Linked DNA regions of Homo sapiens: all the other regions are linked to region 4. Evidence: fine-mapped QTL for protein levels in blood plasma. A gene starts in region 4. Each other region holds a variant in brackets. All regions are shown on one strand. Distances are between the middles of the regions.

Region 1 (8,000 bases), 350 kb after region 4:
CATTCATTCATCATGAATTAATCCAACACATATTTATTGAATGCCCACTGAGCTAGCTGTTGAAGATTGCATGGTTATCAACCACGTTCCTTATTCAACTTTCCAGGGGCTTTGCTTTGTCATAATTTCAGTGGCTTATATAAACCAGACATAATGACTGCAACAAATTTTCATTAATAGCATGTTGACATGGTGGAAATACATTGTCTCTCACCTTACTGAGCCCATCATCTATTAGATGATAGCCATAATTCAAGAAATAAGTTTTATGATGTGTAAGGAGAGGGAGAGAAGCATAAAGGACAGTTGTGTGCTGGTAAATGTTTGTAAATTGGCTCTGAGGAGCAGGGAGCCCTGATTTGCAGCATTTGTCAGTATCTGTTCTATAAATAATCTCACCATGGCCAATTCCTAGTTACCGAAATGATATCACTGAATGTGGAGTTGGGAAGAGATGCACAGAAGTTCATCATAATATAGCACTTCTAGCGTGCAGACACAGTAGGCATAATAACCCTGAGACCGAAGATAATAATAAAATGTAGTAAAAAATAGGGATGAATTTGTTAGTTTTGATGCTAATAAAATTTATTTGATTGTAAGTTTATTTAGTTAAAATTTTAAGAATGGCTTTGTGTAGCAGTCAGCTTGCAGAATACTGAAAATTTGACAACTGGCTCTCCAGAGCCGGCTCCAGCCCATCCCAGTGGAGGGGAGCACTTGAAGCAGCAGCCTCGGAGGATTGCATTCATTCAGGTCTTCCCAAGAGCATTGACCTTTAAGTTGAAAGCAACAACAAGTGGGAGAGAGCCAGAGAAGTAGGGTTGAAGCATCATTTCAGGAGAAAAGACAGCATAGGGAAGACAGAGCAAGGCACATTCAAGAGATGGAGATCCTGGAGCATACAGAGGAGAGGCTGGGAATGACACGAGATTTGGTGAGGTATAAAGTGGGGTCAGATCACTCAGGGTATTCATGACGCTACACTGAGATGATTAAAATTAGATTTTTCTTTTAGAAAAATGTCTCTGGTGGCAGTTCAGAGAACAAACAGGAGGGCATGGTAAGATAGGCATGTCAGGATGAGGAAGTCAGCAGCGGCAATTGCCACAGGGCAGAAGAGAGTTGGTGGTGGCATGGATAGGGTAGTGGCAAAGTGAATGGAGGAAATTGCAGTGAATCAAGAGGTTTTCCAGGAAAAAAAGACACTTGAGTTAGCGATTGATTGAATATGATAATTCCTCACATAGTTTCCAAGTAATTTATTTAAAAAAATGTTTGTAGAGACAAGGTCTCACTCTGTCACCCAGGCTGGAGTGCAGTGGCATGATCATAGCTCACTGCAGACTGAAACTCCTGTCCTTAAGTGATCCTCCTGCCTAGGCCTCCCAAAGTGCTGGGATTACACCAAGTAATTTCTGATTGAAACACCACTGTCTCCTTCCAAAGCCTCCTTCCCTTCTGCCTCTAGGTCAAGTCTGACCCTGCACACAGGAGCATTTCTACTTTGAGAACACGACTTCCTCTTGATCCTTTCCTAATGTCCTCAATTCTCTTTTTAAATCTCTTTTGCCTGCCTAAAATGTGGTGTTCCTTATAGCGCTGTCCTCCCCTCCCTTTCTCTAGTCCCCCGTGCCCTAATCACATTTTTTTCCTCTTCCATCTGAGCTCTTCCCAAACCTTCAGCTTTCATACTTCATGTAAAATTTATAGTCTTTATTGCTGAGATCCTTCCTGAGATTTCAATGGACATTGCCAGGACTTTGTTTTTATCTTCACATGTAAATCTTTACATCTGTCAAACACATTTGCCCACACAAACCCACAGCATCCTGTGTTTGCTATCTCTATTGGTATCATTACTCTCCTCCAGTAACCTCTGATTCACCCTCTAGTGCTACTCCTTCTTCCACAATTCTCTAAAAATTTAGTTCCATGCATGCATCAGATTATCTCCTTTTCCAGTTCTACTGCCACTGACTTACCTCGGAACATTTATTTCAATTATTATAATAACTTTCCCTATACTTTCCCTTACCTCTTTTTTTTTTTTTTTTTTGAGACGGAGTCTCGCTCTGTCGCCCAGGCCGGACTGCGGACTGCAGTGGCGCAATCTCGGCTCACTGCAAGCTCCGCTTCCCGGGTTCACGCCATTCTCCTGCCTCAGCCTCCCGAGTAGCTGGGACTACAGGCGCCCGCCACCGCGCCCGGCTAATTTTTCCCTTACCTCTTGCCAGAATGTTCTCCTATCACATTTACACCTAACTCTGAGACAATTCTTTCCGAGGCATGTTGTGGTTTTACAGATGATGTGTTCTGTCCTCTGTTCATGCAGCTAGAGTAGGAGCACACAAGGAGGAGTGTGTTTGTTCATCTCTGTATCTTTCCAACATCCAGTATGTTACTAATATACTTAAGACATTCGATATTGTTAGGAATTAAATTAAACATTTATTGTTGAATTGGATTAATTTAATTTATTTCCACTTTCCAGAATATGTTCATCTCAGGAATGGTTGATCCCCCTTCCCCAAACTTAGAATCAATCATTAGGCATTTTTAACACCTTAGCAAATATTTAATTTTTGCTTGAGATTCCCAGAAAAGAGAAACTCCTATGAATTTGTAAGAGTGGAACTCCTTATATGAAAGTCTAAATTTTCTATTTACATGTATACTTGATGAATCAATTTATAATACGTTTAGCTGAAAGTAACTGAAAGCTTGGCTAGATATGGCTTAAATGCATAGCTTCTATGTGTGTGTGTTTGTGTCTGTGCATATTTTAATTGTATGCCACAAGTAGGACAAGGGTAATCTGTCACAGAGCTGCCACATTACCTATAGTGAGCCAATAATATTCTTCTTTCTGCTTTTTGATCTGCTTTGCACATAGGTTTCTTTATTCCTCATAATTTTCACCTCTTAATCACAAAGTGGCTCCTGTAACCCAAAGGCATTCCTGCCCGAATTCCAGGTAGCAAACAGGAGGAAGAAATGACTACTTAAACTTAGCACTTTTATTTATTCCCAGTGACATGTGCCTAAACTGTGTTTAAAAAAATGTGAGTATTCTTAAGAAGGAATGTTTAAACATTTAACCCCTAAAATAAGGAATATGTATTGTGTAGGTGCTTTGCAGTATCTATAACACATCGTGATATCAAGGCAAGCAATCTTTTTAAAAAAGTATGTACTTACAGCAAATCCACATTTCATTATTTTAGATTTAATTTTCTGGGAATTAAATGTGTATATATATATATGTGTAATATTTTAGTTTAAAGGAATTTTGAAAATGACAATAATCTTAAAACCACAATGCAGAATAAATAAATCTTCCTAACTGCTACTTGCTGGATTTCGTTTTGTTCCCCCTTTACCATCAGCCAAACCAAGCTTTGTAATCCAGCCTCAGGACACAGAGGTTTTAA[T/C]TGGCACCAGCACAACTTTGGAATGTATGGCCACAGGCCACCCACACCCTCTTATCACTTGGACCAGGGACAATGGATTGGAGCTGGATGGATCCAGGCACGTGGCAACGTCCAGTGGACTTTACTTACAGAACATCACACAACGGGATCATGGTCGATTTACCTGTCATGCCAACAATAGCCACGGCACTGTTCAAGCTGCAGCAAACATAATTGTACAAGGTATGGGAGCAGAAGGTCATGATTGAAATGTTCCTCCTGCCACACTCAGAAAATTATTTTTCAACTTAAATAATGTCATGTACATCAGTGGAGAAATATTTTTATTTGCCAATTATTTTTTGACACAATAAGATTTTCAAAGCTAATCTGTTTCAAGTTAAAAGTTGTTTTTTTTCTTTCCTACTTCAATCTTTATCCAAAGGTCAGACTCAACCATTAGCAACAAAAGAGATGGAGTCATTAATCTGGAAGGAAACTGTCAAGAGATATTTGTGCTTCAGAATATTTCACAGATACAGGAAAGACAGTACAGATATGAAAGTGAAAAGGCTGTGCCCTGTGTTCATAGTCACTTACCAAACTGTCTACTCAACAGAGCTTGAGGACATGCTGAAGGCTCCTACGAGGCCAGACTGCGTAACAACAGCAATAGTAAAACTATTCTGAATCCAGAAATTAATTTATATGCATGGGCATGCAATCGTGTTATAAAGAAGGCACATTCTTCTTTGTACTTTGGTTCTCAGCCTGGGGTGGCCCCTTTCTGGTGTGTGTGCGTGCATGTGTGTGTGTGTGTGTGTGTTTGTGTGTGTGCGTTTGTGTGTGTGTGCATGTGTGCCTGCATGCCATCTTCCTGTAGGGTTAGAGTTTAGTAAACAGCAGAATATAAGTGCTATTGGAGTCATATCAAAGGTCCAGTTTTTTCTAAACTAGTTTTTCATCAGTTGATGAGAGTACGGTAATTTACATGATCCGTTTTAGGGGCTTCCTGATATGTGCATATTTTGATTGAGTTAAGTTTCATTATTTTAAGATTTGCATAGGATGTTATCTACCAAAACACTGAACCGTGTGAAACACAGAACAGAGAAAAAGGGAAGTGGCCAGCCTAGTGCAGTGCCTGGGTTGGGAGGGCTTCAGAACAGTGAGCCCCAGTGGCCCCAAGAGTGATCTTGGCCCCCACAAAGCACAAGGCTTCCTCCAGCCTAGTCTTCCTGCATTCAGAGAATGTTTTCTAAATTGAACTGTTTAGCATCAACTCCTTTAATAGCAATAGATCAATACTTTCTTATTCCTATTTACATGTCTCAGGAAAAAAAATTGTGTTTTTCCCTAGAACTGCTAATATCCCAAAAATACTTTCCTTGCTCTAATAAGAAGGCACAGAAATGAAATATTTTCTTGAGGTCTTTGGTAACTTCTGGGGGAAATTACTTTTAAAGGACCCAAACGTTATTTTTAAACTTTTAATATGTTGAGATTGAAAAATACCTTCAAAGAAACTGTGTTTGGGTTTTGTTTTGCTTACATCATTTTGTGTTCAATGTCTGTTTTTTAGAAACCTAACGCCTGATCACTTTCACACTTTAGTGGTTGCCTGTATTCCACACTGTGCTAGGCTTTTGTTTCTCAGCTTTTTCCATGTACTTCCTTTCTATGCTTCCATCTGCCCATCTGCGTCAGTCATTGCTTAACAGAACTCTGGTAACCTTTACCATCCTGCCTATTTCTTCTACCACAATATGCTAATGATTTCTTGTTGCCAGTGAGTTTGCACTGAAATGGCCATCTGCTTGTCCTTTGTTATTTGTGACCATCTACTTGTGTCACTTTTGGATCTGTGTGCCCAGATTTTTAATTGATTTTGAAACGGTCCATTAATCATTCTATACATTTATTTAAAAGGCTGATTTTATTTGCCTAATCATAGATGAAACATTTTAAGATGTATCCTTTTGTGTCATTTTAACAGGTTTCTATCCATGTTCTTGATCTTTTAATGTCTATTTAAACTGAGATCACAGTTATCCACAGATAAACTTCCTTTTTTAGACTGACTAAAATAAAATAACACAAATAAAATGACACAAAAAAGCTTCAATGAAAGATATGAATCACAGTGTGGACATATAGGTAAAAAGGCCTATGGTCATCAACAGTGTAAGTCAAAATGCTTTGTGTGTGAGGCAGCACCTTAATGAGTAGCCAGAATTTTAGATTTTAATAAAATAGCAAAACACTTCATCTCGGCATGTGCTATTTTAGCACTGGAGGTGGGACTCAGAAGGCCATCATTTTAAATGGAAAGCCCAAAGATGTCAGCTTCATCATTCCTGTCTAATTATTCCACCTTCTCTGCCTGCTTTGGTGATGTTCATAATTTCTTCATCGACCTAGCAAGCTGCTCATTTTAGTGTTAGAAACAAATGTAAATTGACTATTTTCTTAAATGTTTTCTATGCTTTGCTAAGATGTGGATCTTGGGTTCTGTTAAAAGTGAGAACACGTGAAGTTTAACAATTCTTTTCACACAGACTTGGCTAACCGTGAACTTTAATTATTATTAAAGTTATTAAATGTTAATATTTTTAATAATTAAAATAAAATTAAATTTTAATATGTTAATAATTATTAAAGTTATTATTATTCAAAAGTTGAAATCAAATTTCCCAACACTAGAACCAGGACTACATTATTTCTCTTAACTACTACCATCTTTTGTTATATAGCTCTTTTACTGTGTCATGAATCTATTTTTTAATGTAGAAATATTTTTGTTCTTTTTAAGTTGTTCCTAGTAATTTTGGGAGTTAGTGTAATGTTCTGGAAAGAACATCAGGCTGGGGGTTGAGCGGCCCAGATTCTCTACTATCTTTTCTACTTATTAGTTCTGACCGAGAGAAATTCAATCCTACCTCCCAGAGTCTGAATTTTCTCATCTGTGCAGTGAGGAGCCTGAGATTGCTGATTTGTGGGCTGTTTTCCAGCTTGACTTTTCTAGAACTCTATTACAAATAGCTTGCAGGCATTCCTGAGGGTTTCCATGAATTTGTGTGACTTGGAAATTTATTTTATACCATATTTAGTCCAGCACCTTACTTAGAATGGATGAAGACTTTAAAAAACTCTTTAGTACTTGCACACAGTATGAAACTTGCAACAAATACACTTTGCCAAATATTATTTACTTTATCATGTTTCTTGTATTTCCAGATGCAGGTGAAAAGAAGGGGGTAGTAGGAATTGTGCAAAAATCTAACAAGGCAGAGAAATGATTTGTCAAGTTGTTAAAGGCATTTGAACCAGAGTGACTCCATCTTGAATGAGGGCTGGGTAAAATGAGGATGAGACCTGCTGGGCTGGATTCCTAGCAGGTTTAGTATTTTTAGTCACAGGATGAGATAGGAGGTTGGCACAATATACAGGGCACAAAGACCCTGCTGATAAAACATGATGCAGTAAAGGAGCTGGCAAAAACCTGCCAAAAGCAAGATGGCGATGACAGTGACCCCTGGTTGTTCTCACTGCTCATTTTATGCTAATTATAATGCATTAGCATGTTACAAAACACTCCTACCAGCACCAGGACAGTTTACAAATGCCATGGCAATGTCAGGAAGTTGCCTTTTATGGTCTAAAATGGGGAGGAACTCTAAGTGCTGGGAATTGCCCACCGCTTTCCAGAAAACTCGTAAATAATCCACCCCATGTTTAGCACATAATCGAGAAATAACTGTAAGTATACTCAGCCCAGCAGCCTATACTGCTTCTCTGCCTGTGGAGTAGCCATTCTTGATTCCTTTACTTTCCTAATAAACCTGCTTTCACTTTACTGTATGGATTTGCCTCATATTCTTTTTTGCACAAAGTCCAAGAATCCTTTTTTGGGATCTGGATTGGGACACCTTTCCAGTTACAAAGTCATCTGCGAAAGTTCTTTTGATCACTTAGGCGTTACTGGGGATCATTGCGCTCTTCTTAAATGGCCACATTGATTTATTTTTTTATTCAATCAAAGAGTCACGGACAGAATCCCTTTTCAGGAATGGCATATGCAGCTATTAGCTATTTCTTATTTATACAAAAGCAATAATACAAAATCTGAATATTTGGAACTCTGAATTTTGACATAAATATGACTTTTTCAAAAGTATAATTTCAAGTGTTGCAGGAACATTAATCTTAAGGAGCTTATTTTTCTTTCTGAAATCGAAAGATCAACTCGTTTCAAATTTTATTGTGCATGTGAAAGTTTGGAGAAGACGGTTTTGTTAATAGTTTAAAGTACAATTTGTAGCTTTAAATATGTTTATCACATCTACTAAAATGATAACCAATATGATTCAATCATGGGAAACAGCTGCCGTAAGATTTAGAAATGGTTTCTTCTTGTTGGCTACTGCTGTTTTGCTTTGCAGACCAGATGTGTGTATTTCTGGCTTCCTTGCAAACAGGCACAAACATACAGAAGCACCTCCACACTCTTTATAACCTTGTTTATATATAATTGTAAACAAATTCTGATCACATGACATATTTGAAGACATTTTCTTTTTTCTATTG
Region 2 (8,000 bases), 390 kb after region 4:
GTGTTGTAGTGTTTGAATAGTTTAAACATTATAAAGAAAACAAATAAAACGTCTTAATCTAAGCACCATAACCTTAAACAAAGTAGATGGTGCCTTTCCTTTTCCAGTCTCTGAAAAAACAGTGGAGCTCTCCAGGGCAATGAATTGGTTTCCATGTTTAATGATGCAAAGTGATGAGTAAGACAGATTCTCTGCTGTTTAAACAAAATGATTTCATAAAGGCAGTCATTACCATCAGTGTGTATGGTAATGTGGACCTGTCTCTGGTGTCCTGGGACAGCCCTCACATGTGTCAGTTTTAGCATCACTCTTTATAGGGAAAGACTGAGTATGATAAGACCTATTTGGTTACGATAGTTACATTATCTGCTAATTTTCTTCCCCAGGGGGAAAAAGGGGGAGGATAAAAAATACTCAAAACCCAATTGGTAATTGTGAAAAAATCTCAGCCTTTATTGAGGTCTAGGCATTTTTTAGCAAGGGTGACAGAGGAGCACAGCTGTTTTGTTTCTGCATCCCATCTCTAGGTCCAGTCCCCAAGTCACCCAGAGCCAGGCCTTTCATGCAGAGCAGTGAGTGGCCACGTGGCCTAAGCTCCCCCTTTTCTGAAAGGACTCAATATTACCATTGGATTTTACCATCAATAGTAGTGATAGCCTCATAGATGCAGGGATAGGATTGCAAATAGATGTGCATCAATAACTTTAAACATGTTTATTTTGTAAATATACTGAAGCCTTTTTCTCATTTTTATTACCCTGAGACTTAACAAAGAAAAATGATCTAGTTGTCCCTCTACTCCTGTAAAATTTTGCATAAAAAGATGGAGAATATGCTCAGAATTTTCTGATTGTTCTATTCCTTAAGCCATTAACTGAGATGATTTTTGAGACAAATAACTACAACAGTATTGATTAATTCTAATGTGTCCCCAACACATTGGATTTGCTTACATAACACAGTGCTGTTCTAAAGAAATTTATAAAAATATTTTTGCAGTTTGTACCAAATCAAACAAAACAACACTGAAATCAAATGAATAATAAAAGAGTTAGTTTTAGTTTACTCTTAAACCACATAAACTTAAAAAATCATAACTGACATAAAAACGAGAAAGCTTTATTATCAAGAATGTTTTTGTTTGACTATATCACGTATTTAATGTGCTTTTAAGAATCTGAACAACTTTATGTGTTTTCTATTTGTGTAGTTTAGAGCTTAAATATTTCAAAAAATATTTGCATACAATTCCATTTTTAAAATTTTCTTCTCCTTTTCACTTTTACACACTGGTTGACTTCTGATTCATATAAATAAATAGCAAATCATATTGACAGTATAACACAGTATCAATTGATAATCATGTGAGGATACAGATTGCCTATAGGTTTTAAAACACATTAATCGTGAAAGCCACCTTATATGTGCATTGCAACATGCAGTTTTAAAAGAATTTTGCGTATCTTTGCTATCTGATAAACACATCAGCCCTGAGCTCTGTGCTGAGCAAGGCTTTCTCTCTCCATTTAATGGATGAGCTAACAGATGAAGACAAGTGCTGCAAAATCCCTATGCTTGTAAATCTTATACAACTATAACAGCAAAACAATTTTATAAACAGAATAAAAGCAAAAACATCAATCCAATTCACATTCACATATTAAATGATGGTTTCCTGAAATTTATACTTTATATCAACTTCTGTCCACCATTGTGAATAGCCTTTTAAGTTTTGGCATCTCAATAGCACTATGTCCTGTACGGTAACTCAGTCCTAGCACACAATCTTCTTACTTCCAAATCCACGTAGACCTTTGATAACATATTTTGTCCCAGATGCAGTAGCCCAATGACAATACTTGTCACAAACAGAAGCATGTAATTAATGCTGCTTTCTATATTTGAGGTCCAAAAGTGAAGGAGTAAAAGGGACAAAGAAAAAGCTAATATGTTGATTAAATAATCAAGTCATACATGCCAGTGCAGATTGATTTGATTGATTTTAGTTTCTTTATTTCTAAGATAAAAGTAAATTAAGTAGGCTCATTCCTACTGACTTTTTTTGAACACATAAGCAGACTAATGTAGCTATGTTTATAGTATTGTTTTCTTATAATCACAGTAATTATATTGATTGATTCCTCAATTGGTTAACTAATTAATTCATTACCTTTTATGTCCATACTCTGCTTTCATCATCATTGCTATATATGTAACAACTATACTACATCTAAGTATTATATATTTTAATTCGATCATTTTATGGTTATCTCTTTCTAGTTTTCGAATTTTTACCTTAAGCATCTTTTAAGTGTCCATCCATGTATGCCCAGACAATTCTAACTGTTGCATGACATTCCACGTTGAACATCCACCACATTTTCCTTGCACACTGGTATGGTTTAGATTTGTGTCCCTGTCCATATCTCATGTCCAGTTGTAATCCCCAGTGTTGGAGGAGGGGCCTGGTGGGAGGTGATTGGGGTGAGTTTCCCTCTTGCTGTTCTTGTGATAATGAGTGAATTCTCATGAGATCTGGTTGTTTAAAATTGTGTAGCCTCTCTCCCTTTGCTCTCTCTCCTGTTCCAGCCATGTAACATGTGCTTCCTTCCTCTTCATCTACCACTACTGTAAGCTTCCTAAGGCCTCCCCAGTGATCCTTCCTGTACAGCCCGAGGAACTGTAAGCCAATTAAACCTCTTTTCTTTGTAAATTACACAGTCTCAGGTAGTTCTTTATAGCAATGCGAGAACAGACTAATACACCCATACTTCCACTGTTGTACAACCAATTTTCTACAATTCCTACTGCACAAAGTTGCAATAAACATTCTCATACATACCCTTGTGGATTTCAATTATAATTTTTCTGCATATATGCATGGGATTGAAATTACTGGATGAGAGGATGTGTGCATATGCAATATTACAAAGTAACAACTGCCATCTCCCCCCCGCCAAAGAAGGCTCTAAATACAATCCCCAAAATAGGTGTCAATTCCACAGTCCTATCAGTCTGCCTGAGGATTTATAGGAACTCTCACTCCTGTCAAAATTTGGCTTTAATCAGCTTTTTATTTTTTGCTAGAATAAGCATAAAATGGTAGTTCATTGACACTTTTTCATTTCTGAGGTTACAAGTGATTTTGAGCATGTTATATCCTTATTAACTTTTGAGCTTTCCTCTTTTATAACTTGCCTATATATTTGTTTCTTAGTGTATTATAACGTTTCTTTGTATGAAACAGAATATCATTTCTGCCTCAGAGTTTGAGATTGCAAATATTGTCAGCTATTTGTGTCATTTATTAGTTATTTTGTTCATGTTCTTGAAATTGTTAATTTCATCCAATTGAATTAATCAATTTTTGTCTTTTTTTCTTTCAATTATCTTTAGCTAAATCAATCCCATGTATTTTTTGGACTAGGAAAGGCAACATTGGCCATTTAGAGCCTCAATCTTGTGGTCATCATAAAGGCTGCAATGACTTGACAGTGGAGCCACCCTACTTACTCAGAATTGCTGCACATAATCTAGTTTGCCAAGAAGAATTTTCAGTATGGTCCTGAATTTTATTCTTTCCTTACAATATTTCCATACCATTGGTATTTTTTTTCTTAAAATTATTTTATGTTGGTGGTCTTTTTAAGACAATAAAATCTAGGCTATATAGATGGTCATAATATACAGGAATTTTCCTGTAATATCTAGATGGAGAATGCTATATGGGCCCATCTATTGTCAAATATATATGCTTAAATATGTATAGAAACACATATATAGATATATACATATAATATGTATATATCTATCATACTATATTGTGGTAACACCTTGACTTAAGCTTATATTAGTTACTTCATTGGGAGTTCTTTTGGATAATACATACAATACCTTCCTATTACTATTCAAGTTTTTAATCACTTTTACTTCCCCTAAATGACATTATTTTCAAACTCAACATTTAAAGCTATATTGACTTTTGCTTTCAATATTTAGCAGTGCCAAAAAGTTATTGTTTTCATTGCCTGTGTCACATAAAATGTTACTGTACTTTTAGTATCTCAAAAATGAACTAGATACTGTGCTGATTATTTCTCTGATATGAACTGTAAATATTCATTCGTAATTATTTTTATTTAGTATTTGTTCCTTTACTGTTAAACTTCTTAAACCATTATTTGAAGAAGATTCAATAGCCTGGAAATGATCAGCTGTAAGTAAATAGCTTCCTTTGTCTACAGGATTCAACTTTGCAGTATTTTCACATGTTAGAGAGCTATAAAAAAAGCATAAATTAATTTTCCCATAAATCTTATTGAGAGTTCAATTCTTGCCTTAAGAAGCCTCTATGGGATGGGAGAATATTTACTTTGCTTTAATGTTTAACATTAAAGCAAGGTGGCTGAAGAGATAGGTATTTCATACCTTCTCCAAGATGACAAATTGCTGACATACTTGGATCCTGTGTGAATCAGCATTGTTCAAAAGGAAATATTTTACATAGCTTTACTAGATTTTGGAATACTTTAATTCCCTAAATAACATTATTATTGTTAGATGAAGCCTTGCTTCAAGATAATTACCTACCTCTCTGCAATGGGCATTATCATGTAGATATTGTATAACATTTTCATTGTCTTAGAGGTTTTAAATGTAATGGCATTACATTTAAAAATGTAATGCCATTCATATAATATCATGCCTAACTTCAAGGTCTGTTTGATATTTTTAATCATGGAATTGATTTTCAAAGCTATACAGGGTAGACAAGCTGG[C/T]GATGACTTTGTTGAATCTTCCATTCTTGATGCTGTACAGAGAGTTGACAGTGCAATTAACTCCACACGAAGACATTTGTTTTCACAGTAAGAATTTATTTTACACAGATTGAAACCTTGTTTTCATTTCTGTTCTACTTAGTTTTTATCATCTCCATAAGTCACATTATAGTGCATATGCAATAGAGTGCTTTCTTTAGTCCTTGTGTATGCATCCCCATCTGGGCTAGCCATCATTATCAGTTCACCCTAAAAAAGGGGAAACTTCTTCCCCATAGAATCTAAATGGCATTAATTTATGCCAAAGGTCCATGCTATACAGGCTGACAATAGACACTAGGCAATGGGCTGGGTTACCTCAGCATCCACCAAACAGTGTCAGATGCAGTGCTCCTGCAATGTGTGAATTGAGAATGATTATCAAGTTGAACACACCTTGGTATAAACTGGGAGCCTACGACAAACATTATGTTTAGGATATTTGGCATTTTACATTATTTTAATTTGAATTGGAATGTTCATGGACTAGTGAAACCTTCCAATCCCATTAACTTCTCTGTGTTTGTAACATCAGGATGCATTAACAAAAAAATGATTGTTGATTTCATCATAATCGGATAAAGTATATATTCAGTATTTGCAGTTAGTGGTCAAAAAGGGACATCGTAAAATCCCAAATTGAGTCTCTTCTGGCTTCCTGCACATCCATAAATAGAATGGCTTTGTGATCATGCATGTGTGTTCTAGAACCACGCAGCCGATTTAGATTTATATTCTCTTCCTGATTCCTCACTTCATTACTTTCTGTCTGGGTGACCTTGAGCAAGTGACTTAACATCTTTGTACCTCAGGCTCCTTGCTCTCTAAAGTTGGGATAACAGTAGGATCTACTTCATGGATGTGCTTGCTAGGAAGAAAAAATAAGATAATATGTAAAAAGTGCTTCAACAGTGCCTGGAGAATAGAAAGTGCTTAACCAAAGTGAACTATTAGCATCATTATTATTATTCTGTGACCTCAAGTAGTTAAGATTCAAGACATAGAGGATGAGATGTGCCTCAGTTGATCAAAGTCTCTAAAACAGTTTGCTTCACATTCTCAGTGCTTTTAAATTTCTTTTTAACATATTTGGTTCAGTTCTACAAATGTGCATAAACTGCTATTATGTGCTGGTCAGTGGGCTTGGTATTTGGGATACAAGATAAATAATAGGTCAACATCTCATCAGCAACCTAGTTCTTTCTTTAGCAGAGGAGACAATATGTCAGCAATTCAAGTACATTTTACTGAGTATATAAGACACATATTTAAGGATACAGGAGTACTAGAGAAGATGGAGTGATAGCTTGTCAGAGCTCTCAGTGAAACTCTACAGGGAGAGTGAGGCCTGAGGAGGATTCTAAAGGCAAGGAGGAATTTCTAGGAGATTACACTCAGGGAAAGAGAAGACACAAAATGCCAAGTCCTGCAGACCGAGAGTATTGCATAGTACTTCAGAAGGTTTACTGAGCCTCCTATAATCCATTCATCAACCGACCCCCCCAGTTTAGAACCCCACCATAGATGTTGTTTCCTAAAACTATTGTTTAAATCATCCATTCATTAAAAATATATATTTTTGAGTTCAGCACTGGGACTAACATTTGGAATAAGTTGTTAGCAAAATAGGAAAAGAACCCACAGCTCCTCTGTAGAGCCTCTATTGTAGTGGTGGAGCTTTCATTCTTCTCGAATGTTTGGGAAATGCCTTTTTAAATGCACAGTATTTGCAAGCTTCATGGACTCTGCTGTTTTGCCTTGTAAAGAATCATGTGTTTTGTCATTTGCAGAAAACCTCACACCTCCAGTGACCTGCTGGCTCAATTTCATTACCCGCGTGACCCACTGATTGTGGAAATGGCAAGAGCAGGGGAGATTTTTGAGCACACGCTGCAGCTGATACGGGAACGTGTGAAGCAGGGGCTCACTGTGGACTTGGAAGGCAAAGGTCAGCCACAAAGCCATTTTATTCTCAGCCTACTGCCCACAGAAAAACTGACCACCACCTTAGCAAAGGACACTGAACTTTTAATCTCCAGAATATCATGGGATTTAGAAATTAATTTACTCACTACTTTTACCAAATAAATGCAGATGTTTCTCATAGGAACTGTAATTCCAAAGTAAGGATGATAAATATATATTCAAACTTGTCTCAACTTTTAAGTTATATGTATAGAGAACAAATCTAGGGAACCTACATTAAGTGAACTTGTGTTTCAAATGTAAAAGATATTATTGTGTCTTATAGAGAAATGCTTTATTACCAGGGGGATATTCTTCCACTTATCCTTTCAATCACCTGAATCATTCAGTGAATTTACTTGAAATTTCTTCTACCACTTATAATATTTATAATACCTCCCCAGTTCTTTTGATTTTTGTTTTTTTGTTGTTGTTGTTTTGTTTTTTGGTATATCCAAGTTCTTGTGTATTTCTTTTTAAAACCAGACATCTAGTTAGTAGATGTCAAATGAGATGATATAGAAAGCTTTCAGATTTTCTAAGTTGTTCTCTTTCAAATGAAATAAGTGAATGTGATTCTTTGCTATATACTATTTGTGCTGTGAGTACAGCATCAATTTCTATTGGCTTACCCTTTCTTTATTCTCCTTTAGGAAATCAACCGAGACGTGGTGCAGAAGGCCTATCTGTGAGCTTGCCTCAGCCCTTAGAGCTCTGTACAATTTCTCTAACTAACTGGCATTTGACTGTCCCTGGTCACCCAGTATGATGGGTTTTCAAAGCTTCCTGAGGCAAAATATCCAGATACCCAAGATTAAGATATCTCAGGATCCAGCCAGGGACTGGCTAACATGGATAAAGTGCAAATGGTCCCATTATTGCTTGCCAGTTTCTGAAGATTAAATAAGGATGGTAACTTTTAGTATGATTAGTGAACAATCTTTGTAGCACTGGGAGAATGCTGGAAGTTTAAGCCCTGTTAAAAGGTAGAGCTCCAAGCATGTCCCTTATTATTTTGCCCGTTTGCCAGGGAATGACAGCTTATAGTAGTTCAGAAAGTTGTTGCTTAATCCCTCCTTGTCAAGTATCATGTGGGTTAATATTCACATGATCCATATTGATATTTCTTTGACCTTGTTCTCTAGAAGCACAAAACTTGAGAGAAAAAATTCTGAAATGAAACAAACAAAAATCAACAAAACAATTCTGGGATGTGGA
Region 3 (8,000 bases), 420 kb after region 4:
GAGCCTTTTGTACTTGTTCTTAGTCTCATACTTCTCATCCCGAATATGACGATCATTGTATGTGTCTCATCAGTTTACTGAGAAGATGAAATAATTTAAAGTATGTCAAGAACTTAGCAGACTGCCTGGATGCTAAGTCTATGCACACATCTGAGTGCCATGTGTAAGTGAATCTGCATTGGTCTCCAATTATGGAAATTTAGGAAATTAAAATTCAGGAAAATTAAAGAAAAAACATTCTCTAAGTAAAGGTGGAAACCTGTCTTTCTATAGGTAGCAATTCTTTCCTTTTCATTTCAGAGCGGCATGACATTCACATAAAATGTATACTTCAGAATGAAAACACAGGAGACTGGCTTTAAATTAAGTAAAATTCATGGTCAGTGACATGTAACTCAGTATTTTCTTTTGCTCAGGAAATATATTTTCAAATGGCTGTAAGTGAGACTACTCCCAATAGTGTACTCTCTAATCTTCTCTTTACATTAAAATTGAGGAATTTTGATATTAATTTTTATGCCAATCAATTTCTCCTAACCTCACAATAGAAATGGCACCACTGTTGCTGTTGAAAATCTGTGCTTTCAAGACAGGTATGCCCTCTCTCACCACTCCTATTCAACATAGTGTTGGAAGTTCTGGCCAGGGCAATTAGGCAGGAGAAGGAAATAAAGGGTATTCAATTAGGAAAAGAGGAAGTCAAATTGTTCCTGTTTGCAGATGACATGATTGTATATCTAGAAAACCCCATTGTCTCAGCCCAAAATATCCTTAAGCTGATAAGCAACTTCAGTGAAGTCTCAGGATACAAAATCAATGTACAAAAATCACAAACATTCTTGTACACCAATAACAGACAAACAGAGAGCCAAATCATGAGTGAACTCCCATTCACAATTGCTTCAAAGAGAATAAAATACCTAGAAATCCAACTTACAAGGGACGTGAAGGACCTCTTCAAGGAGAACTATAAACCACTGCTCAATGAAATAAAAGAGGATACAAAGAAATGGAAGAACATTCCATGCTCATGGATAGGAAGAATCAATATCGTGAAAATGGCCATACTGCTCAAGGTAATTTATAGATTCAACGCCATCCCCATCAAGCTACCAATGACTTTCTTCACAGAAGTGGAAAAAACTATTTTAAAGTTCATATGGAACCAAAAAAGAGCCCACATCACCAAGTCAATCCTAAGCCAAAAGAACAAAGCTGGAGGCATCACACTACCTGACTTCAAACTATACTACAAGGCCACAGTAACCAAAACAGCATGGTACTGGTACCAAAACAGAGATATAGATCAATGGAACAGAACAGAGCCCTTAGAAATAACGTCACATATCTACAACTATCTGATCTTTGACAAGCCTGAGAAAAACAAGCAATGGGGAAAGGATTCCCTATTTCATAAATGGTGCTGGGAAAACTGGCTAGTCATATGTAGAAAGCTGAAAGTGGATCCCTTCCTTACACCTTATACAAAAATTAATTCAAGATGGATTAAAGACTTAAACATTAGACCTAAAACCATAAAAATCCTAGAAGAAAACCTAGGCATTACCATTCAGGACATAGGCATGGGCAAGGACTTCATGTCTAAAACACCAAAAGCAATGGCAACAAAAGCCAAAATTGACAAATGGGATCTAATTAAACTAAAGAGCTTCTGCACAGCAAAAGAAACTACCATCAGAGTGAACAGGCAACATACAAAATGGGAGAAAATTTTCGCAACCTGCTCATCTGACAGAGGGCCAATATCCAGAATCTACAATGAACTCAAATTTACAAGAAAAAAACAAACAACCCCATCAAAAAGTGGGTGAAGGACACGAACAGACACTTCTCAAAAGAAGACATTTATGTAGCCAAAAAACACATGAAAAAATGCTCACCATCACTTGCCATCAGAGAAATGCAAATCAAAACCACAATGAGATACCATCTCACACCAGTTAGAATGACGATCATTAAAAAGTCAGGAAACAACAGGTGCTGGAGAGGATGTGGAGAAATAGGAACACTTTTACACTGTTGGTGGGACTGTAAACTAGTTCAACCATTGTGGAAGTCAGTGTGGCAATTCCTCAGGGATCTAGAACTAGAAATACCATTTGACCCAGCCATCCCATTACTGGGTATATACCCAAAGGACTATAAATCATGCTGCTATAAAGACACACGCACACATATGTTTATTGCGGCACTATTCACAATATCAAAGACTTGGAACCAACCCAAATGTCCAACATAGACTGGATTAAGAAAATGTGGCACATATACACCATGGAATACTATGCAGCCATAACAAATGATGAGTTCATGTCCTTTGTAAGGACATGGATGAAATTGGAAATCATCATTCTCAGTAAACTATCGCAAGGACAAAAAACCAAACACCGCATGTTCTCACTCATAGGTGGGAATTGAACAGTGAGAACACATGGACACAGGAAGGGGAACATCACACTCTGGGGACTGTTGTGGGGTCGGAGGAGGGGGGAGGGATAGCATTAGGACATATACCTAATGCTAAATGACGAGTTAATGGGTGCAGCACACCAGCATGGCACATGTATACATATGTAACTAACCTGCACATTGTGCACATGTACCCTAAAACTTAAAGTATAATAATAATAAAATAAAAAAAAAAGAAAATCTGTGCTTTATGCCATTTAGTGAGGTCGGCTTGTCACCTCATTAAACAAATAGCGATCCTCAGAGAACCTGAATCCACATCACTTCTTGGCTAGAAATGAGGAAAGCAGTCAATGTGCTTTATGTTTTTGTGTGAAGAGAGCCATAACTGTTATCATGCAAATTTATAGAATACCCAGAAAATATTTTAAAGGCTTTATAAATTATAATAAAGATATTTATGAATTAATATTTGTACTTATTTCATCCAGAATTAATATGGAGAAGGCGGAGAATTTCAGAAAATGTGCTGAAAATACTACCTAGGTGCTTTTTTGGGTTCCTAGTAATTAACTTTGTGATCTTAGGCAAATTGCATGATCTATCTGAGTTTCCACTTCCCTGGGCATATTATTCATTGGTTGCCACAGGAAACTTACTGAATGCTTTTAAATGGCTCTAAAATATTCTCCTTTGCAAATACTTATGAGCCTAAGGCAGACAAAAACTAGTTTGAATCAGTTTAGAATGTTTTTAAAGAGTGAATTGAGTCAACATTTACTTTCATTTTGCATAATGCCAGATGTTCTTTGCAACATTTGGATAGTTTGGCCTATATCCTCATTTTCTCATTAACAATGATTGGTACTTCATAACATTTTTTAGCTAGAATGGAATTTTTTTTTGGTGGGGGGGGCATGGCTTCCATAGCCAGTGAAGTCATTAGCTTATTTTGTATTTTTAATTACCTGAAATAATAATTGAAAATGAATTAAAATATATAAACATTTGTGCTATATATAATATTAAAACCTTTTCTTTGTTTTTCTTGCCTGTTCCATTATGGGGAAATGTGACATAAAAGCTACTTTAAACAGAGAATGATGTGTTTTATAAGGCATTTGACTAATAGCCTCTTTTCACTGGCAGTTTGAGAATTTCTTGGCAAATAATAAGTTCAGTAAAATGAGCTTCCTTTTTGCTAAAAAATACATAGAACCATTGAACAAAAAGTAAAACTATAAAGAATGGCTTTAAACATAAAGAAGCTCAAACAAATGGGCAATTCTTATATGTCACAAAGGACAAGGAAACTTAAAAGCCAGGGAGAAATCAGGAATGAATGTGCTTTCTTGGCCCATGATTATCAGTCATAGACATTGCTCTGAGGGATCAGAAGTTGAGGTTTTAGTACCCACACAGGGTAAGGGGATACAGAATCCACCTAGTCAGAGGCCTGAAACAGAGTTCTCTGCAGAAAGCCTGAAATCCTGCCTCATCTCTGCAAGGATGAAGGGAACTAGAAAATGCCTTCCCATCAGGAAAGAGGAAGCAGCAATATGGTTTCTCAAGTAAACATCAGGGACCGAGGCTGAAATGAAACAGGAAAATTTTTGAAATTCGAATCCCAGCCTGTGTTACACAGGAAAAGAATCTGAATTTACTCAAACATCATGGTGCTGGAAAGAAAAGAAGATAAATTAACATGAAAAACAGCCCAGGGGCACATGAAACCCCTGAAATCCTCGCACAAGCACATGTCAAATCACTCTCTAGGCATTCTTTTACGACCTGGTGCATACAGACAATCACGGGAATGACAAACCAAACTCCCAAGAAGTTCTCTCCTTCTCACACATGCAAGTTAAAATTCATTTCAGCAAATATGTAGCTGCAAGATAGTCAGCAATGAGAATAAATGAAAAGCAACAAAACAAAACAAAATTAAAATGGAACTTAGGGAGATTAAAACAATAGGAGAGACTCTGTGCATTTAACATTAAATTAAGTAAGAGAATGAATAGAAACCATGTTAAAAGGAAAAGGTAAAAATACAGGTATTTGAAAAACTGAATTTCAAGACATGATATATATAATTTAAATTAAGATCTCAGTAGCTAGTGAAACAGCATACTAGAAATAGCTGAATTAAAAAAATAGTGAACTGGAAGATAAATCTGAAGAATTCACTCAGTGTGTA[G/A]TACAGACAGATGAGAATAATAAATAATAAGGGAGATTTAGAGATAGGGAGAAAAGATTGAAAACATCAAATATTTATAGAAGTTCCAAGAGGTAGAAAACAGGAATGAGAGAGAGAGACCCAGTTTGAAGGGTTAGCAATAGAAGAGTTATAAAATTGAAGAAAGACTTGAGTCCTCACATTTAATGAACAGAACCAGTACCAATGTACTCATCTGCAGAACATCTCACTTAGGAAGTAGAATGTATGTATTTGAAACCTGTATCAGTCTAGATATGCGAGATTATGGTAATCAACAACCAAAAATCTCACAGGATGAGCATAGCAGATATTTTTCACTTACATTAAGTGTCTAACTCAAGTTGGAAAGAATAAATAGAAAAGCGAAAGTTAATAAAGTAAAAAGTTGAAAAAAAGACTGATTAATATATTCCCAAACTGAAAGTTAAGTTACAAAAACATAAAAAAACCAGATTTCTAAGAAGTTACTGTTTGTGTTTTTATAAAGATAGCTTGAAAATAATAGTAATTGAATAATTTTCTATTTGGTCTTCGAATAATAAGAAAGCCAATATCAAAACAGAGCCTACATCAATTTGAAATCATTGAAAAATTACTTTTAATAGTTTCTGAGTTCTAGCTAGACAAAATATTTCAAATTTTAAAGAGCACATTATACAGTATTATGGAATATATAAAAAGATGATAACCTACTTGATTTATTAGCTGAAATTAGCATGCCTCTGGTATAAACCTTAAGAAAGGATCTGTAATGTTAACCCTGAAGTCATTTTTTACAGGGAATAACATTAAAAAATGCTTGTCAGTCAAATCATGAATAGTTTAAGAATAGTGCAACATGATTAAGGAGGAATAATTAATATAAGTCCAGAATATAAAACTGAGTTAGTATCAATATAGGGCATTATATTAGAATATACAGTTATAAAACCCATTCAGTCATCTCAGAGTATACCAAAATGACATTTGGTAAAACTTGAAAACATATTTAAGGTGAAAATAAAAACAACAAAAACATTTTTAGCGGTTTTGAAATAGAAACATCTTTTTACCGTAATATTCATGTATTCATTCAATTAGTAATTACGTTAATTCATAAATATGTATTATATCTACTTTATTCCACCTATTTCCTTAATAAAAGGTATGCAACTGATACTGTAGTGAATGATGAAGCACTCACTGGCTTAGAACCGGCAAAAATCTAGCAATTGTGAGACCAGTCTCCCCTACTGCATCTGTGACAAACACTACTAAACTCTCTCAGGATTTTTTCCTACCGAACATAGAGGCAATCTCTGACTTCTTCTAGACATGGCTCTCATGACAGCCAGCAGTTACTCTACTTGATGGGACCTGGCATACAAAATGAGACCTCCTTATAGCCCCTCACTGGAGCATGCCCACCTGGAAACAAAACATGGCTCTATTACCATAGTTAACATTGCTTTTAAATTTCAGTGCAGCAGGCCCTATTGGGACTTATGAGCTGGAGAAACGAAATGAAGACTGCTCATTTTTATAACTGCATAATTTTCATCAGTTTAGAATGTTGTCTAAAAGGGAGAATTGTAAGAGTGGGTGGTAATTATGAGATCTATGCAGTGGCATGGTTTGTTGTGGACAGTTGAGGAGGTCTTAACTATAGGCTTCCTTTGCTGAATGAAGGATAAGCTTAGTTCATCTCTGACTGTGAAAGAGTAGAACAGTGGGAAATCAGATTTGAGTGGAGAAGCTCTCACATCGTAATGGACTTCATAAGACTGGAAAAAAAGTCAGAGCATCAAGCCAAAATAGTTTTGCAGTTTTGAGGACATAAATGAAATTTATAAATCAAGTGTATACAGTTGATTAAATAGAATAATAGAAATAAAATGCTTGTCACTTGGCTGACATGTAGAAAAGACTCTTTCTTTTTTTTTTTTTCAAGATGAAGTCTTGCTCTGTCATCTGTCACTCAGGCTGGAGTGCAGTGGTGCTATCTTGGCTCACTACAACCTCCACCTCCTGGGTTCAAGCAATTTTTCTGCCTCAGCCTCCCTAGTAGCTGGGACTACAGGTGCGTGCCACCATGCTTGGCTAATTTTTGTATTTTTAGTAGAGACGACGTTTCCATCTATCATCTATTTATCCACTTAACTACCTATATATATATTATCTATTTCTATTATCTCTCTTTATCTCTTATCTATCTATATCATCTCTACCTCTCTTTATCAGTCATCTATCACTTGCTTCTAATTCTCTGTCATCTCTCTGTATCTATCTTTATCTCTTTTTCTATCAGTCATCTATCTATCTTACTACTGCCAGTATCATGACATAGGGGTGTGATTTCTGAAGCTTAGAATAAATCACCTGGCCGGGCACAGTGGCTCACGCCTGTAATCCCAGCACTTTGGGAGGCCGAGGCAGGCGGATCACGAGGTCAGGAGTTCGAGACCAGCCTGGCCGATATGGTGAAACCCCATCTCTACTAAAAATACAAAAATTAGCCGGGCATGGTGGCACGTGCCTGTAGTCCCAGCTACTCCGGAGGCTGAGGCAGAAGAATTGCTTGAACCTGGGAGGCAGAGGTTGTGGTGAGCTGAGATCACGCCACTGCACTCTAGCCTGGGTGACAGAGCAAGAGTCTTATGTCAAAAAAAAAAAAGAATGAATCACCCAACATTTCTGTTAAATGTCTTGAATTCCACCAATGGAGAGCTATTCTTTTATTCGTTATCTGCTTTTATATCAATACCATGGTCTATTAGTCCATTTTCATGCTGCTTGATAAACACATACTGGAGATTGGGTAATTTATAAAGAAAAAGAGGTTTAATGAACTTACAGTTCCACTCGGCTGGGAGGCCTCACAATCATGGTGGAAGGTGAAAGGCATGTCTTACCTGGTGGCAGGCAAGAGAGAATGAGAGCCAAGTGAAAGGAGAAACCCCTTATAAAACCATTAGCTCTTGTGAGACTTACTCAGTACCAGGAGAACAGTATGGGGAAACCACCCTATGATTCAGTTATCTTCCACCAGATCCCCTCCACAACACATGGGAATTATGGGAGCTACAATTCAAGATGAGATTTGGGCAAGGACACAGCCAAACCATATCACATGGTATAAAAACGTAGTTTATGTTTTAAATATCTGTTTATGCCTTCTGACTGGCCTATGCTCTTTAAATCAGGGGCTGTTAATTAGTCGTTTTTTAGTCTAGATTGGTGGCTAGAAAACTCAGGGAATCCTTAGGAATATGTGGATTGAATGGAAAGTTAATCTTTAATTTCTCAATCAGAAATTAAAAGCATGATTTATTACTGTAGATTACTTACCCCAGAATGTATGCTAACTAATCTT
Region 4 (8,000 bases):
TTTTCTCCCTCCTGAACTTACATATTTCTGAGTCCCTACCCTTTTTAAGTCTACTTTATGAATGCAAGATATTTTTATATTTTTGTATTTTATATATTTTATATTATTTATATTTTTTGTATTTTATATTTTGAACTGCAAACAAGGCACAAACCTGCAGGTCTTGTCTATGTCCTCCAAATCACAGGCACTGCCAAGAGCATAGTGATTGTTGGGATTTAAAGGAATAAATTTCGTTTTTTGGCTTTATTGGTATACTTGGACAATAAAAGTCATGTGAACAATGTCAAATGTAAAGTTTAAAATAAATCATTCTTGTTCATGGAGATTAGTTTTGTTTTTTAGATCTTTTTACATTTTAATCTCCCCAAAATCACATATTTAGATATGAACATTTTGCCAAAAGAGGGCAGTATTCGCCTACAGTAGAATGTAAAGGGACTGAAACATTTCTGCAGAGACAAGGATGAACTTATTTTCCTCTTAAGATTGGTCTACTAGTCTGATCATCTGGGATTGACCATGCAAGTTTTAATTTGTTTTCTATTACTTTTATGGATTTAAAACATTTTTGTTTGAAAATGTTAGTCTTTAAAGATAAAGCCAAAAATCTGTTTAAAAATACCTGCTTACAGAATGACCAAAAAGTAGATGTTTTCATATTTATTAAGTTTTCAGACACGTCCTCAACGAGGTGCTGCTCACTTCAGGGAAAGATGGCCAGTTCAAACTGCTGATGAAAAGTCTGCAACCAGCAAGACCACTGCTGCCAGTGTGTCCTGAGGGAGCTTGCATCTGTTTGACTTTACATATACATACTTAGGTTTGTCCATCAGTTGTATCCTCTTGAAGGAGGTATGTGAGTTCATGGTTTTAAGCATATAAATTTAAACGTTAAAAGAAGAAATCAGAAGTAGCCCGTTTGAGTCTTACATGAGTGAAATGTGTTGGGTTTCAGCAGCAGAATATATAGAAGGAAATGAAACAATTTTTATTAAAGAGCATAGTTTGGAATAAAGAAAGAATATGTGCACCTAGATGAACGAATTAGAACTCTGCCTGCCCTTTAGGGTTTGGTAATGTTACCAGATAAAAAAGAAGAAAAGCTGTTCTGCATTGTTTCAATACATTCTTAATCAACTTGGGCTTCAAGAGGACAGCTGGAGGCTAAGAGGTCGGGTTTTTCATCAAATGCGCAGTGGAAGTAATTTTGGAAAAGTTTGTTTGCATTATGCTGCCTAAAACACGGTGTTTTAGAAAGAGGCTTTTGCATTGAAAAGCTTCTCGTCCTCGCCTCTGGGAGTCTAGTGCTTCCTAGAGCTGCTTGTGCCCTCAGCCCTGTAATGTGATATCCCTCCTCCTGGATTGGTCAGAGGGGTGTCCTTTCCCTGGGAGCTGCTTTCCACCACGGCTCCCAAACTTGGCTCAGTCCAGCAGCCACCATCACCACCACTGCGGTTGCTGCTGCAGCTGCAGCTGCTGCTCTCCCTCCGGCTGCTTCTTCGCGTGGCCAGCAGCGAATGGAGCGATGGAGCCCAGACTGTTCTGCTGGACCACTCTCTTTCTCCTGGCCGGGTGGTGCCTGCCAGGGTTGCCCTGCCCCAGCCGGTGCCTTTGCTTTAAGAGCACCGTCCGCTGCATGCACTTGATGCTGGACCACATTCCTCAGGTACCACAGCAGACCACAGTTCTGTAAGTTCACATAAATTCCCCAGAAACCCTCTTCCCCAATGCTTCATTGCTTCTCTGCTAGGACCTGTGTCCTTTTAATTTACGATTCCTAATGCTCTCCCTGCTTGTATACTTAGAAGAGGCTTTTCACTTTTCAAACAATTTCATGGTTCTGCTCTGTTAGACTAGAAAATGTAAGCAATGATGAGTTGACATAAATATATTTGTTTTGGATTCAGTTCTCTTCCAGCATCTTCCAGAACTTAGCATTGAGAATTCTCGTCTTCATTCTTCCTTCAATAATTTTCCTGCATACTTTCTCAATTTATTCCTATTCATCCTCTACTCCCAAGTCTTTGGGCCTCTTAATTGGTCAGCACGTGTCTGCCCCATTTGGAAGGAACTAATTTAACTTTAGAGTGTGGTTTCAATTGATTATGTGCTGACAAATTGTTAGGCTTTGTACTGTGTGTACCTCCTGGGAGGGTGAAGTCCTGAGCCCTCAGCACTTGAAGCACTGTCTGTCTCCAGAACAGACCCTCAAATGGTCCAGTAGAGTTCTTGAATGCTTAAAAGCCTTGTGGAGCAGCCGCTTAGACTAATCGGCATCTAGGAGGCATTACGGGATAGTAGGGCAAACCAGAATTTGGAAGTCAAACAGGTCTGAGTTCAAATCCTATCTTCTCATCTTTAATATTCAGATAATAAACCCAAACATTTAGATTTATTTAGATTAAATTAAGTCATAATTAGATAATTAGAAGGGCAAATCACCACAAAAGAAGAAAAGGATCTGTTTCTAGGGTCTATTTTTAAAGAAAGAAAAAGACGACAAATTCAAAAATTTAAGAAAAAATAAAAGAAGAAAAGGAAAAATGCTGAAAGATGCAGACTAAAGAGGTTTCCTGCTCTATAATAAATATTTTGTGGGTTGTGTCATGTTCATGGAAGACAAAACTGCTTGCAGTGTTTCAAGTCCATTCTTGGGCAGAGGGAAATAGCTTAAAATTCCTGGAATTTTGAGATATAAATGTTTAAGAGGATCATTGCCACACATTTGTCAGTCATAATCGTGAAATGAGGACTTGGTAATAAAAAGTCCAATTTGATGGTATTTACATAGAAAATGACATATTATCCATAGATTTTCATTTCTATAAAGCATTTCATTAATTTTATATGCATGCAGATATCAAAATACGTCTTACTGTAATAACTGAAAGGATTCTTGAACTTGGGAGCACTGCTTATTGCTATGTGGACAGCACAGTTCTGCAAGTGCCTTCAGACTCAGAACCAGCCATTTGTCCTTTTGTAATGACAGTTTTTTGGTAGATAGCAGCAAAGCCTTGGAGAAGGGGCTGCTTGTCTAATGAAGTATCTTGGAGCTACATGAGGTACAACTCGACCTAAATTTTGTTTCCTAGGTGTTTCAAAGAAGAGATTAGCTTGCATTAGACACACACCTCTAAATGTAATGAGCAGAACTGAAGTGATGTTGTCAGTGTTGTCATGCAGAGCCTTCCACTATGTTTAAAAATAAAGCTTAATGGTGGATTCTCAGGCCCTTGGCTAGATTCCTGTCTGGGAGTCTGGTGCCACCACTTACAAAATGTGTTGCCTTGGACAAATTCTTAACTTCTTGGTGTCACAGTTTCCTAATCTGTAAAAATGGAGATGCTAACAGTGTTTGATATGGTTTGGATCTGTGTCCCCACCCAAATCTCATGTTCAATTGTAACTCCCAATGTTGGAGGTGGGGTGCAGTGGGAGGTGATTGGATAGTGGGGGCGGATTCTCATGGTTTAACACCACCTCCCTTGGTGTTGTCATGGCGAGAGTGAGGTATCACAAGATCAGGTTGTTTAAAAGTATATAGCTCTTCTTGCGTCTCTCTTCCTCTTGCTCTGGCCATGTGAAGTTCTCACTCCCCCTTTGCCTTCTGCGATGATTGTAAGTTTCCTGAGGCCTCCCCAGAAGCCAAGCAAAAGTTGCTGTACTTCTTGTACAGCCTGCAGAACCATGAACCAATTAAACCTCTTTTCTTTGTAAATTACCCAGTTTCAGGTATTTCTTTATCACAGTGTGTGAAAACAGACTGATGCACTCTTCACCCTATTGGTTATCTTGAAGATTTAATGAATTAATGCATTTTAAGTACCTAGAAAATTGCTTAGCTCTAGTAAACACTATGGAAGTTTTCACTATTAGTATCATGTTTGCAATTCAGGACAGGAATTACAAACCTAAATATCTCTGGGAACCTGCCAGTAAACAATTTGAGGGAAGTGGGGTAGATGAAAGGCAGACTACTGTGTGATGAATAGCAACTAGCCTGAAGCTTGGAGTGTGTGGGGATGGTAATGAAGGCAGAGGCAGCTCTTGCTAATGGGGCAGCCAGTTACTTAGCTAATTGATGGCCTTTGGGGATTTGGGCCATAGTTTCAAGAAAATATGGAAGCCAAAAGTGACATTCCCTAGCTTTTCAATATTAGCAGCTAATTACATTTTTAGAAATGGAAAGGCAAAAATATACAAGCCCAACCATGCATATTTGTAGGTTGCTTTTTGCCTAGGACCTTCAGTTTGTGACTTCTAGTAGAGAAATGGTATAAAAGCTGAGAAGTATATGTAAAGCCTGTAAAAATTGCTCCTCTACTCCTCTGGGGCTAAAAATCCTTGATGTAGGATTGCATTTTATGTCAGCAATATCATGAAAGATGACAATAACAATTATGGGAAAAAGCCAATTAGTTTTTGAAAACTAAGGCAAATGGAAGCTGAATGAATTTCTCCCCAGCAGCAGAACCAATAGTTTTTGTTAAACCGCCCTTATGTATGTTTATTGTCATTATAACATGGAAATGATGTAAATAATATATTTAGCTCTGCAAATGGCCAACATGCTTAGTAAATGCTTATTAGTAGTAGTGTTAAAATTTCCTTAATTTTTTCCATTTTTACATGTTTTAAAATTTTAGCCTGAATGCAGAAAATATTTTCCTAAATCATAGATAAGAAAACTGTATTATTTTTAAGATTGGTTACAGTTGATCAGGGTTTTAAGTTTAGAAAAATGCAAAACTGTCCCTCCAAATTTTAATTTCATTCTGACTATAAAGATATTGTGTTTCTAAACTAATATCATTTACCAAAAAGCCTGCTGCCATTGAGAAAATCTCACTCTTTGTGCCGTGGATTTTAGTAAAACAAATCTTTCAGAATTAGAATTTGCAAACAAAAAAATGTCCAGTAATGAACACAGCATCTTTAGGGAGCCTGTTCAGTAATCAGAAGCAGTGTATGGTGAGTGTGATTTGACTCCATCCTATTCCAGGGTCATTAGGTTGTACTTTCCTAATTTCCTTAGTTACTGGTTAAGAAATGGACTCAGTGACTGCAAATTGAACATGCTCTAAAAACCACCTTGATTAGAAAAAGTTTTAAGCTTAGGGCTGTTTTAATGATCGAGGATTTTCCTAAAAGTCATAAATACAAAAGTATTTACAATGTGAAATTCTAAACATTTAATTTAAAGACATTTTCTTTATGTGGAAAGCTTTCTTTGCTGTCCAAATAATAGAAAACTTGAGGAACAAGATGGGGGTGGGGAAATGGAAAATGTCTTATGCTCAGTCATGAAAAAGTGTGTCCAGCTGATAAAAAATTTCACCTTGTTCAAGAAGAAAATAGAATTCCTTCAGCTCTTCCAATTTCCATTCATTTTATATATATATAATATATATATCATTTTGTATATATACATAAAATGATGTGTTATGGAATAATAGGGAGTAGCTGCAATCTGAGGCAGCAAACATAATTTTATAATTTAAATTATATATAAAGTTTTATATATAAAATTGTATAATTTAAAATATATATATGTATATATAAAATACAACTTAATAGGGCTTACTTTTACCTTTGTTACAAAATTTTTTGTAGCTTGTTTGTAACCGACATAACTTACTGGCTTTGAATGACCACTTGGCAGTAATGAACAGGCCTGAACTTTTTGGACCTTCCCCCACCTGGCATTGTTGAGGGGAAGCACAGTGGGACCCAGATGAAGTGTGTCAACATTCAAACTTCCCCCAGTGGTTGACTTGTTGGGGAGAGAAATGAAACTGAAAGTGGGCTGTCACTGACCTCCTGACTCAGGCCAGTGTGGTTCTGTGGAGAGGGGCTGGAAGAGGCTGTTCTGGAAGGAAGGGCAGGTGAGTGTGGATGGAGCCCAAGCAGGAGAATGGACATAGGGACAATGTGGAGGTGACAGCTTGAGGAGGTAGAGGAGTAAAGGCCAGCACCACTGGCTGGGGTATAATGTACCCTGGAGACTTGGGAGTCATCCTTCAAGAAACAAATGGACAGACAAATTGTTTTAGAAGGTCAGTGGAGCCAGGATATCCTACAACAGCCTGTACTTAGATGGTATATGCTGATTAAAGTATTAGAACAGTGTTCCCTACACTAAGTGCTGCCTTTCAACCCTACTGTAGATTCTATAAATGAAGTGAAGGGATGTGTTATGGAATAGTAGCTTTGTGGGGAGTAGCCGCAACCTGAGGCAGCAAAGCTGTGGTCCCTGTGCTAGTTGGAGAGCTACTGCACATGGGAAAAGTTGAATGACAGTACAAGTCTGGTGTTAGAAGGACCAATTCTGCTTCTGTATTTATGGAGTAAAAAGGGATGGTGAATGTCCTCGTTTGTCAACTAGATGGGCAACAAAGACAGTGAAATGAGTGAAAAAGAGGAGAAAAAAAATTGAATCATGGAGAGTGTGAAAGCAAAATAAATCTTGGGTCCCCAAAAATCACTAAGCTAAAGGGAAAGGTCAAGCTAGGAACTGCTTAGGGCCAACCTTCCTCCCGTTCTACTCAAAGTCACCCCTCTGCTCACTGAGATATATCTGTATCCGATTGCCTCCTTTGGAGAGGCTAATCAGAAACTCAAAAGAATGTAACCATTTGTTTCTTATCTATGTATGACCTAGAAGCCCCCTCCCCACTTCAAGTTGTCCTCCTTTGCTTCAAGTTGTCCCACCTTCCAGACCAAATCAATATTCATCTTACATAAACTGATTGATGTCTCATGTCTCCCTAAAATGTATAAAACCGAATTGTGCTCTATCATGTCATCAGGACCTCCTGAGGCTGTGTCATGGGAGTGTGTCCTCAACCTTGGCAAAATAAACTTTCTAAATTAACTGAGACCTGTCTTGGATATTTGAGGTTCATACATTGTTGAATTTTGTTGTGTTTTACATGGGCATTCTGGTAGAAGGGGTAGGGGCTCAGAAATATATAAGCTCAGGAGGGAGATAGAGGCAAAACATGCAGTTCTGAAAGTCATTGGGCTAACGGTGTACATTAATTAGGTTGAACAGAAGAAATGAGATTTCCCAGAGGGAAGAATGGGAAAAGGCCACATAGGCTAGAATTCTGGAATGCTCCACGGTCAAGTAAACACAAAGAAGAACAAAAGCCAGGACGGTCACCAGTGGTTGTGTAGGCTGTGTACTGCACAACTCCAAAGTGTGCTGGGAAATGTGCCCCCCTTGCAGCTGTGCAACACTGTGGTCCTGGAGGAAAAGGAGGGAAGAGACAGAGGAACACATCTACCGAAGACTCAGGAGGAGCCCAGAAGACAGTATCGTTTGTTCTTCAAGAGAGAGGATGGGGGCCACATCTGTCAGAGCTCGAGGTGGCAGAGTGCAAATTCCACCTCTAAGAAGTTGGAAGAGAGGGACAGGGTCAAGTGAATTTTGTTGTTTATGTTGGTCTGTTTGTTTTTATGAAGGACAGGGAGAGTTTTTTTGTGTGGTAGGCAAAGGGAATGAGAGTAGTGTGGGAAGAGGAAGGATGTGAGAGCTGAGAAATGGAAAGGTTTTCTACTGGACCTCGCAGTTTCCAAAGAGAGATACTCGCTGAGATATTGATATAAGCAAGTAACTGAGAGCTTCCTGTCTAGATCAACAGTCAGGACACAGACCTCCTTATCTGGGAGGCAGGGAACCCAGCAGGACAGATGGGAGGCCTCCAACCCACAGTGAGCCAAGGCCTCTGGAAGCCTCGTTGCTGCAGCACATGTTCTAACCCAGGTGCAGAATAGGTCTGACATTGATGCTTCTGGCCCCAAAGGGAGAGAGAAACATTAGGACAATTTTGAGGATACCTGGATGTTCAGCTACTACATTATTTTGTAAATGTATTCCTTTGCTTAGACATCTTTCACAAATAATGTTTATAAAGTTTTGTTTTATTCAGTGAAATGTTAACTTTACTCAAGTTGATGTAGGTTTAAGTTATGTAAATGTTTATCAAAAA

Alleles and levels. Positions count from the first base shown, and alleles are read on the strand shown. Strength reflects both the effect of a copy and how common the allele is.
For the plasma level of the protein whose gene starts at base 1,428 in region 4, C is the low allele of the variant in region 1 and T is the other (strong association).
For the plasma level of the protein whose gene starts at base 1,428 in region 4, allele C in region 2 goes with a higher level than allele T (moderate association).
For the plasma level of the protein whose gene starts at base 1,428 in region 4, A is the low allele of the variant in region 3 and G is the other (weak association).

The links. A credible set is the group of variants that fine-mapping cannot tell apart. PIP is the chance, under the fine-mapping model, that this variant and not a neighbour inherited with it causes the effect. The UK Biobank Pharma Proteomics Project read protein levels with antibody pairs (Olink). The fine-mapping took linkage between variants from a reference panel, not from the people measured, so its PIPs are less certain.
Region 1: its variant is the best candidate, but not a certain one, in a credible set for the plasma level of the PXDNL protein (UK Biobank, PIP 0.78). The variant lies in the coding sequence of PXDNL. If it changes the protein, the assay may bind it differently, which can mimic a change of level.
Region 2: its variant is the best candidate, but not a certain one, in a credible set for the plasma level of the PXDNL protein (UK Biobank, PIP 0.74). The variant lies in the coding sequence of PXDNL. If it changes the protein, the assay may bind it differently, which can mimic a change of level.
Region 3: its variant is the best candidate, but not a certain one, in a credible set for the plasma level of the PXDNL protein (UK Biobank, PIP 0.89).

What each region holds. Positions count from the first base shown.
Region 1 is chr8:51,449,175-51,457,174 of GRCh38, reverse strand. PXDNL (peroxidasin like) reads left to right here. Exons shown (of 23, transcript NM_144651.5): 10 at 3,390-3,656. Among named protein-coding and RNA genes, the nearest start is that of PXDNL, 360 kb to the left of the region's middle. The variant T/C (reference allele first, on the strand shown) is at 3,435.
Region 2 is chr8:51,410,015-51,418,014 of GRCh38, reverse strand. It overlaps PXDNL (peroxidasin like), which reads left to right. Exons shown (of 23, transcript NM_144651.5): 15 at 4,757-4,865; 16 at 6,608-6,765. Among named protein-coding and RNA genes, the nearest start is that of PXDNL, 400 kb to the left of the region's middle. The variant C/T (reference allele first, on the strand shown) is at 4,779.
Region 3 is chr8:51,385,399-51,393,398 of GRCh38, reverse strand. All of the region lies in intron 17 of PXDNL (peroxidasin like), which reads left to right. Among named protein-coding and RNA genes, the nearest start is that of PXDNL, 420 kb to the left of the region's middle. The variant G/A (reference allele first, on the strand shown) is at 4,628.
Region 4 is chr8:51,802,873-51,810,872 of GRCh38, reverse strand. PXDNL (peroxidasin like) reads left to right here and starts at 1,428. Exons shown (of 23, transcript NM_144651.5): 1 at 1,428-1,692. The coding sequence starts at 1,529. RefSeq lists enhancers at 1,011-1,532, 1,533-2,055.